2 separate regions of the Homo sapiens genome follow, and region 2 is linked to region 1. The links come from fine-mapping of genetic effects on gene expression. A gene starts in region 1. The other region holds a variant in brackets. All regions are shown on one strand. Distances are from middle to middle.

The links. PIP is the estimated chance that this variant, and not a neighbour inherited with it, causes the effect.
Region 2: its variant is the best candidate, but not a certain one, in a credible set for the expression of ETNK1 in whole blood (TOPMed, PIP 0.63).

Annotation. Positions count from the first base shown.
Region 1 is chr12:22,622,004-22,627,522 of GRCh38, forward strand. It overlaps ETNK1 (ethanolamine kinase 1), which reads left to right and starts at 3,168. Exons shown (of 8, transcript NM_018638.5): 1 at 3,168-3,583. The coding sequence starts at 3,428. It overlaps ETNK1-DT (ETNK1 divergent transcript), which reads right to left and starts at 3,043. Exons shown (of 4, transcript NR_135030.1): 1 at 2,670-3,043. RefSeq lists enhancers at 2,813-2,882, 3,413-3,582, 3,602-4,291.
Region 2 is chr12:22,644,483-22,649,482 of GRCh38, forward strand. The region is part of intron 2 of ETNK1 (ethanolamine kinase 1); the gene reads left to right. Among named protein-coding and RNA genes, the nearest start is that of ETNK1, 22 kb to the left of the region's middle. The variant A/G (reference allele first, on the strand shown) is at 2,936.

The DNA of each region.
Region 1 (5,519 bases):
CCAGTTGTTCCAGCACCATTTATTGAAAATTTGAATTGCCTTTTTCCTTTGTTAAATATTAAATATTAGTTGACTATATTTGTGTGGATCTATTTCTGGACTCTATTTTGTTCCATAGATCTATTTCTCTATTCTTTTGAGAATACTACACTGTACTACACTGTCTTTTTTTTTTGGTTTTGAGACAGAGTCTCACTCTATTACCCAGGCTGAAGTGCAGTAGTGTGATCTTGGTTCATTGCAACCTCCGCCTCCCAGGTTCAAGTGATTCTCCGGCCTCAGCCTCCCGAGTAGCTGGGATTACAGGTGCCTGCCACCACGCCCAGCTGATTTTTATATTTTTAGTAGAAACAGGGTTTCACCATGTTGGCCAGGCTGGTCTCAAACTACTGACCCCAAGTGATTCACTCGCCTTGGCTTCAATACTACACTGTCTTGATTATTGGAACATATACTATTTTTTTTTCTTTTTTTAGGCAAGGTCTAATTCTGTTGCCCAAGCTTGAGTGCAGTAACTTGATCATGGCTCACTGCAGCCTCAATCTCTTGGGCTCAGGCAATCCTCCTGTCTCAGCCTCGGAGTAGCTGTGACTACAGGTGTGCACCACCACACCTGGCTAATTTTTTTTTTGGAGAGATGAGGTCTCACTGTGTTGCCCAGGCTGGCCTTAAACTCCTGGGCTCAAGCGAACCTCCTGCCTCAGCTTCCCAAAGTGCTGGGATTACAGGCATGAGCCACTGCACCCAGCTATACTGTCTTCAAGTCTGTCTGTTTTCTCACTTTGTTTTTCTTTAATATTGTATTGGCTATTCTGGCTCTTGTGGCTTTGCATGTAAACATTAGAACTGGTTTGCTGATATCCACAACATAACTTGAGGTGATTAGAATTGAATCAGTAGATCAGGTTGATAAGAACTGATATTTCTTGCACATTTTTAAAGTTTTGCTTTTAACATTTAGGTTTCTAATCTTCCCCAAATTAATTTTTATGCATAATAAGAGGGAGGGATCAAAATTTTTTTCTCATACAAAAAGCAATTGTATCACTACGGTTCATTGATCAGTCTGGACTTTCTCACTAATTTTTAATGCTACTTTTGTTATATACAAAGTTCTCATATGTGTGTAGGTTTTGTTCTGGGACTTTATTATGTTCTAGTAGTTTATTTGCCCATACCTAAACCAATATATAATACATCCTGGTAGGGTTGGTCCTCCCAATATATTCCCTGATCTTACCTGTCCCTATCCTCCTCTCCCCAATTACAGCGCTTTTCTTGGACCTTAAGTTTTGATATGAATTTCAATGTCATTTTAACAAGTTCAGTAAAAAAACCCTTTTGAGATTTTAACTGGAATTGCATTATATGTACTGATTAGTTCAGGGAAAATTGAGGCCTTTACATTAATCTTTTCTCATTTATGAATATGGTTCATTTCTCCATTAATTTTATCCATGGATCCTGTACATTTTCGGTTACTTTTGTTCTCAGGTACCTAATAGTTTTTTTTTCTTTTCTTCTACTTGTTAATGGACTCTTATTTACCATTACAAACTAGTGCAGTTTGCAACATAATTTTCAATTAAATTGTTTTACAGTTACATAGTTTTAAAATTCTTAAAATGTCAACTGCTTAATAAAAAATACAATTTATACAAAAATACAAGAGATACTATCTGAAATGTGAAAGTAGTAGTATATTTATGATTTCTCCCCAAAGTGGAAGGAACACACACTCTAATGTTTCTTGTAGAAAATTATGCCTAAATCTGGCAGGGCGCGGTGGCTCACGCCTGTAATCCCAGCACTTTGCGAGGCCGAGGTGGGTGGATCACCTGAGGTCAGGAGTTCGAGACCAGCCTGGCCAACATGGTGAAACCCATCTCTACTAAAGATACAAAAATTTGCTGGGCGTGGTGGCACGCGCCGGTAATCCCAGCTACTCGAGAGGCTGAAGCAGGAGAATCCCTTAAACCCGGGAGGCGGAGGTTGCAGTGGGCCAAGATCGCGCCATTGCACTCCAGCCTGGGCGACAGAGTGAGGCTCCGTCTCAAAAACAAAACAAAAAAAAACAGAAACAAAAAACAAACAAAAAAACCACTAAATTTGAAAAATGTTAAATCAACTTCTTTGCTGTATTATAAAGCTCCATTTCCACCCCTCTTTTTAGTTTAGGAAGTTTACCGTTATCGGTGAAGTAATTATTTTGTTAATTACAAAGGTAAGTAGGTTCTTTCTGAACAATCAGGATGTAAACTTAATGCTAGTGAAGTAATTAAACATTTTGAATGTTAATTAAACTCAGTCCAGTTAAGGGTTTTATTTACTACTAACAAACGTATTCACCGTGTGCTAAGTGCTGCAGGGAATCCCAGCCCGTTTTCCTCCATCTAAAAGGAAAATTAGGAGGTCCCAATACTTTACTTGTAGATTTTCCAGTTTCTACCATTCCCTGTAAGGCACTGAGACGCAAGATTTCAAGGCCCACTCGGGGTACCCTGGCATGGACATCGAGTCGTTCTAGCGCTGAGCTTCAAAACTATTCCTTTCCTTCCCTTTCTTCTTCATACCAGACTCTAATCTGTTCTCCCTAGCTTCGAATTATTCACTGTATGGTCGAACATCTTACTCCACAAATAACCTCTGAAGTGTTGCAGTTGTCTTACCCAAATACCTGAACTCAGCTTGTCCCGAGTACTGCGATCCCGCGTACTGCTAATGGGAATATAGTTAACCCAACTAGTATGAGGTCCCCAGTACACAGCAGCTCCAAGATCAAGGCGACCGAGTAACACTGCTTGCCTAGACTCAGGCCAAGTTCGGAGAGTGATCCTGGGGTTATTTTAGAACGTGTCCCTTGCTTCCCAGAAAAATTCAGTCGTTAACTCAAGTCCAGATGCCCAATGACCATTCGGATAAGGTGAGCTAAAGCTTCAATGCCTTGAGGGGCTTGGCAGGGCTCGGGCTCATCCCGGAGAAGCAGCCCCGCTTTCCAGACTAGCAGTTCCCAGGGATGGGTGTGTGCTAATCGCAGGCCAACAAGCCCAGCGCGGTACAGAGGTCCCATTGTGACCGGAGGCGAGAAACCCCGCCTCGGCACCCTGACGCAGCGCAGGACCCGCCCCGCGCGTGACGCCAGCGTCAGGCCAGCCCCGGCATGCTCTGCGGCCGCCCGCGGTCCAGCTCCGACAACAGGAATTTTCTCCGAGAGCGGGCCGGGCTCAGTTCAGCTGCTGTCCAGACCCGGATCGGCAACAGTGCCGCCTCCAGACGTTCTCCTGCCGCTCGCCCGCCCGTCCCAGCGCCCCCAGCCCTCCCGCGAGGGCGCCCCGGGACGGAAGGATCCACCAGTCTGTCGGCGCCCGCCGTTCTCGTGGTCGCCGTCGCCGTCGTCGTGGTGGTAGTCTCCGCCGTCGCCTGGGCCATGGCCAATTACATCCACGTCCCTCCCGGCTCCCCGGAGGTGCCCAAGCTGAACGTCACCGTTCAGGATCAGGAGGAGCATCGCTGCCGGGAGGGGGCCCTGAGCCTCCTGCAACACCTGCGGCCTCACTGGGACCCCCAGGAGGTGACCCTGCAGGTAACGCCCACACCTCAGCTCTGGGTCTCTTATGCCCCTCACGCGGCTCTGGGGGTCCTCACCACAATCGCCTCTGTCCCACGATGACCGAGGAGGACCTAGGGCAACATCTCCTTAAGTCTATTGGGAAGTGACCCTGTATTTCCCCTCACACCTAGGAGGGTCACTCCCCCTTCCCGTCGCAGTTGCTCTTTGAGATTGACCTGAGGCACATTTTCTCTTTCTAGAAGCCGCTGCGTAAGTGACGGACCCATCCACGGGGGGAGATTCCTGCTGATAGTTGCCCCTCCTCCCACTCCCCAGTCCACGGTCACTGCAAAATGAACCTTTCCACTCCCCTTGCACGGGGTCCTCGTCTACCTCCTCCCCTCCCACCAGTAATGCAGTCATTAATCCTCTCTGATCTTTCCTTCCTCTCCCCTCCCCCTGCGATGTGCTTTCATTGATGCCTCACACTGCGTTTTGTCTTCCCAAACCCTAGCGTACTCAATTCCCAAAGTAATGACCACGACCATGCATCGCTAGGTCGGTTCTTAGGCAGCACCACACACATTGTTTTGTTTGAGTCGATATTTCTGAATTATTAAAGTCGTCTTACTGAAATTAATACCTGATACTAGAAGGAGCAGTGGCTTGTGACTGTTTCCTTTTCATGAGACACCGTGTTGATAGAGAAAAAATTGGGAGGAAAAAAATCCCTGAGACTCTAGGAGTTTTCTAATAAGTTGGAAGTTATGATTTCCACTACGTGATTTTTTTTGAATACTAATCTGTTTTTAGCTTTAGTTTCAGGAACTAGATACAAAAATAGATCTCTTTTTCTCCTTTTCCCTTGCAAACAAAAAAAAACAGTAATTTTCAAGATTGGGATATTTGGGATTTGTTCTAAATCTGAGCAATAATGTAAGAACATTCATTTGAATTAGCCAAATCATCTGCCTCGTTTTGATGACTAATTTATTCACCAATATTTGTTGATTTATTTGCTAAATTCTTCGCTAAACTAGCCAGCCACCCACACAAAGATGAATAAAACATGAGCAGTGCCTAGGGCCCAGAACAGTTCCTGACACTTGGGTTTTCATGTGTTAGTTTCAGTTCTTATTACCTAGAAGAGTTTTTAAGCAGATTATTTTAAAGGACCCGTATGTTTTGGAGAAGAAACTTGTTAGACAACAAATTTTGAAATTTAAGGGAGTATTTGTTAGCCGAGAATATAGGAAATAGTGAATCCAAAGTGATTTTTATGTCATTTAAAAAATATATTTCCTTTAAAGGAAATGTGTCTTCCAAATTGAAATTCAGTACTTGTTTAGTTTATCAATTTGTTTGTATTTTATTATATAAGACTCTAAAATTTATTAAGATGATTTGTTTTCTGGCAGTCACTTATACATAAAACATTATTAATTAAAAAGTGCTACTTCCTGGTAAACTCTAGTGTTGGCAGATCAGTTACTTTTAAGCAGTGACTTTAAAGTTTAAAGCTTTGAAGACTGGAATTTCCTTTGATGTATTTGTCTGTAGAATAGTAATAATAGCTACTGTGGGGTTAGTTAAATTATTTTTTTTTTATCTTAGTCGCCCGAACAACCATATTAGGTAGGCACTATCATTTTAGGTGAAACTCAGTGAAGTAAGCCAGGATGTAGGTAAAAAAGGGCAAAATGTAGTGACATTAAACTGTTTTTGCTTGTTGGAAAGTAACTACGTGTGTTTAAATCTTGGTTTCTTGTAGCAACTTTTAACCTAAAGACCTTTGGGTTTATAATCCGAATTTTTAATATTTGTAAGTGCAGGTAAATACTACCATTTATTTTTCCCTAAGATGATTATTAGTTAGAAATACATTCCCTCCATGTGCAAGCAAAGCTTTGGTCTAGAAGCTGTCCTAAAAGCATCTGCTAAGCTGAATTGATGATTATTCACCTTTCAA
Region 2 (5,000 bases), 22 kb after region 1:
TATATGCTTGATCATTTTTCCAAAATTGCCAGCTTTAAAAATTCTCTTTCTGCTCTTGAAAACTCTAGAAAATGGTCTGGATTTGAAAACAGCATTCATAGGTTAGACCAGCAGTTTGCAACCATTTTGGTCTCAAGACCTCTTTATAGCTCTTTGGGCTCTTTGTTTTAATATTTGATTAATGTTTATCAATATTTACCATATTAGATATTAAAACAAATTTTTTAGAATACAAGAATATCAAGTACATGTCCTGTTAGCTATCATTGTGATGAAATTATCACATATCATATAACCTCTTGAAAGGTACACTGTACACTTGTGAAAGAGTGAGAATGAGAAAGGTAAATAACGTCTTGTGAAAATAGTTTCAACTTTACAAAGCTCCTGAAAGGATTTCGGATGGCCCGGGGCTCCCTGGATCATAGGTTAAGAATTGCTAAGTTAATACACTGACAAAAATGGAATGTACCAGTAACACTTATCTATTGTAAACCTGTATCAAATAATATATTAAAATATTTTGTCATAGAAATCTGTTCAAACCCTAGTTTTTAGCCATCACATATATTTTCTTCTTTTACATGAGTCTAGTCTTTAGATGTATTAAAAGATTCTGATTAATACATTTGTGTTTACTGTGTGTCAATTGTTTTGTGGTCTTTAGGCTTGCATGTATTTATAAATCCTCAATCTTGTTCACAATGGTTGACAAATACCTATATAACAGCATTAAAAATTAATAGATGCATAGATTGGATCCCCCCAAAGCTGGTTTTGTATATATACAAAAACATATTTCATGAAGTTCCTAGAGAAGGGCCACATGAGTTTCCTTGTAACTAAAGCAGAGAGTAAAACATGATTGATCTATTTCAGTAACCTCAAATAGAAACAGTAAAATAATTATAGTTTTTGATCAAGAACAGTGAAGGTTTGTCAAGGCTGACTTTGGTATTTGATACAATGTTATAAACATGTTTTCAGTAAAAATATCCTTTTCTATACTTTTTGGTTAGATCTACTTACTTATTATTTCTTTCCCAAATGCCAAAGCCTTTGTTTATTTTTTCTCTACTTAGATCTTTTTAAAAATATATTTTTTATTGATATATCATAGTTGTACATATTTTTGTGGTACATGTGATATTTTGATACATGTATACACTGTATAATGATCAAGTTAGAGTAATTGGTGTATCTATCATCTCAGACATTTTTTTTTGGGTTGGGACATTACAGTTCTTCTTTTCTAGCTATTTTGAAATATACAATAAATTATTGTTAACTATAATTTCCTTGCTGTATTATTGAATGCTAGAACTTATTCCTCTGATTTAACTGTACGTTCATACCCATTAACCAACTTCTTTTCATCACCCCCCTTCCTAGATTTACTCAGAATATGTATAAGTGATACTAATGTAGGCATATACACATTTCATAAAAAGAATATACTGTGTTAGAAACCAAACATCAATACTCTGAATTCTTTGACAGCTGGCTTGTAATAAGTGATACATTGAATTGCCCCACAGTTTTGCAGAGGAGAAGCAGAGTGGAGGCCGAGAAAGTAAGCAAAAGAAGATGACACTGAAGAACCCTGTATGATAGGATATTGTTAGTTGGCATTATGAATAGTAACATTTGCTATTTAATTTGTTTCGCTGTTAAATTTATTTCAGACTGTATTCTAATTCCTATGGCATTTCTTATTGTTAAGCAGGTCTTAGTCACTATAAAACAGAAAATATGAAAAGAAAAGCTAAGGGAGGGAAAGGCAAGTTTTGATTAACAAAACGTCTGAGTTACACATGATTTTAAATAGGAGTGTGGTTTTATTTTTTTCAAATATGTACGGTGAAATACTTCTAAAATACCAAGTAAGCAGATCAGTAGACCATGGTCTGGAGCCCCAAGAAGAGGTTAAAGATGTAAATTTGGGATGATGTGCTTATTTAGCCCCTTTTAAATGAATTTTATATTCTGTGGTTAAAAAGAATCTTTGATTTGTTAATTTAATAGGGACTTACTGACAATTTGGGGTTAGTTGTCACATTTTGATTAATCCTTATGAGCTTTAATGTTTGAATATAATAATAAACTTTTAAGACACTATTGATTGTTAGGTCAGCCTAATAATATGCATGCAGTGATCTGGACTGATTGATCAGTAAATGTTGATGAGCGCTTTAGATCAAAGTCCACAGTACTTTCTTGAATTGGCTCATTCAACCATAGCTGTATGCTTATATTATGATTATGACGAAGGTATCTCATTTGAATGTAAAAGGCTTATGTTTATGTTTGGACTAGTCTGGGGGAGGAAGAAGAATCTAAACTGTCCTTGCTGTCTTAGTAATTTACAGTTTGTGACACAGTAACCTTGAGGGAAAAATAACCTAAATATTGTACAAAGAAGAACAGAAAAGGCTTTCAGAGAAAGTACAGGTAGTTGATTTTGGGCATACATAGGAAATTAGTATGTTTCACTGTGATCACATTTGAACTGAACTTTGAAGGACAAGGTAGCCTGTAGGAGGTGAGGAATGGTATAGGTAAAGACAATGAGCTATAGTGCCTGACGGGTAATTCCACTTATGGAAATTTATCATTCTCTGTTTTATTTGAGCTTTTTTGTAGCAATCAGTTATTACGGACACCTTCAGAAAATTTTTTAAAATTCAAAAGTGTTTAGAAATTTTTTCAAATTTCTTATCAGATATTTCTTAGAAATTTGCCTCTTGTCAAGAACCTGGCTGAAGTTTAATGACAAACCATCCAGTAACAGACATAATGGAAGAAATGCAGTTTCAAATCAATTGTTGCAAGTTTATCAAAGAGCATACTGAGGGTACCGTAGTGGAACTGGCACCTTGTGGGTTGTGTGCATGTACAGTTGGTAGTGTTTTCTTTTGGAAATCAAAAGGACAAT[A/G]TATAATAACTCAAAAGAAAGTTATATGCTGTATTTCTGGCAGCAACAATTAAAAGTCTCTTATATTCAGATATAACTAAGGTACCTCAACACAAAGGAGAATTATGCTACTGTTGAAATGTAACTTTTTGACTATTGTCTAATACATGCAAAATGGCTGATGCAGGGCAACAGGAAAAAATCAGCTTAAAAAATAGCTTAACTGTGGCTACAATTAGGCAGTAATTTGCTCATGCAAAAACTCAAAGGGGATATATAAAAATGAAATACTATGGGATGGTAAGATTAAAGATTATTTTTCGTTTCAAAATATTTTTGTTATTGTTAGAATACATTTAATTTTTTAAAAGCTTTCAAGAGAAGTAACAATTAGTGTTAGTGAATATTTGAGGAATTCTCTGAAGCCTTGAGGGTTTGAAACATTTGGCTTTAACGAGTATGGAATTTTAAAGCAGCGTTTGACTTGATGTTACTGTAGTAAAACCTCGCTTACTGAGACAAGGTAGGAGAAGGACCAATATATGATAGTGAAAATCAGATATCTTTTAAATGATTTTTAATTACCTTCTTATATATACAAAACATAAATTAATGATTATTAAATAATGCTAAGTTATCTGAATGAAGAGATTTTCCTTTTAAAGATTTTAGTTTTTTAGTGCATTTTTGATTCACAGCAAAACTGAGGGGAAGGTACAGAGATTTCCCAGATCCCCTCCTTCCTCCACAGACAACCTCCCCCATTATCAATATCAGAGTGGTACTTTTGTTATAATACATAAACCTATATTGATGCACCATTATCACCCAAAGTCCACAGTTTACATTAGCGTACACTCTTGGTGATGTACATTCTGTGGGTTTGGGCAAATATATAATGCATGTATCCACTGTTAGTAGTATCATACAGAGGAGTTTCACTGCTCTAAAAAAATCCTCTGTGCTCTGCCTATTCATCCCTCTTTTCCCCTTAACCAGTGGCAACCACTGATCTTTTTACTGCTTCCACAGTTTTGCCTTTTTCAGAATGTCATATATTTGGAGTCATTTAATTAAGTAGCCTCATTAGATTGGCTTCTTTGACTTAGTAATATGCATTTGTTTCTTCCATGTCTTTTTATGGCTTATTGGCAGATTTCTTTTTAGGGTTCTGAATAATGTTTCATTGGATATGCACCAAATCTATTTTGTTCATTCAACTACTGAAGGACATTTTGGTTGCTTCCAAGTTTTAGCAATTATGAATTAAGCTGCTATAAGAATCCCTGTGCAAATTTTAATGTAGACATACAAATTTTTAACTCCTTTGGGTAAATGCTGACGAGCATGATTGCTGGATTGTATGGTAAGAGTATATTTAGTTTTGTAATAAACCGCCGAACTGTTTCCCAGAATGGCTGTGCTATTTTACATTTCCACTAGCAATGAATGAGAGTTGCTGTTGCTCCACATCCTCACCAGCATTGGGTGTTATAAGTGTTTTGGATTTTGGCCATTCTAATAGATATATAGTGGTATCTTACTGTTTTTGTTTGCATTTCCCTGATATGTGATATGGAATATCTTTTCATATGCTTATTTACTCATCTGTGTATCTTTGATGAAATGTCTGATAAGGTATTTGGTCCATTTTTAAATTGGGTTGTTTGTGTTCTTATTGCTGAATTTTAAGAGCTATTTGTGTATTTTGGATAATAATCCATTATTGGATATGGGTTTTGCAAATATTTTCTTCCAATCTGTGCTTTATCTTTTTATTCTCTTGACAGTGTCTTTTGCAGAGTAGAAAGTTTTAATTTTAATGAAGTCCAGCTTATCTGTTCTTCCTTTCATGGATCATGCCTTTGGTGTCATTTTTAAAAAGTCATTGCCAAATCCAGGGTCATCTACATTTTCTCCTATGTTATCTTCTCATGGAATTTTAGTTTTGGATTTTACATTTAGGTCTGTAATCCATTTTGACAGAATTTTAATGAAGAGTGTAAGGTCTATGTCTAGATTCATGTTTTTGCACGTGAAGGTCCAGTTGTTCAGCACAATTTATTGAAAAGTCTATCTTTTCTCC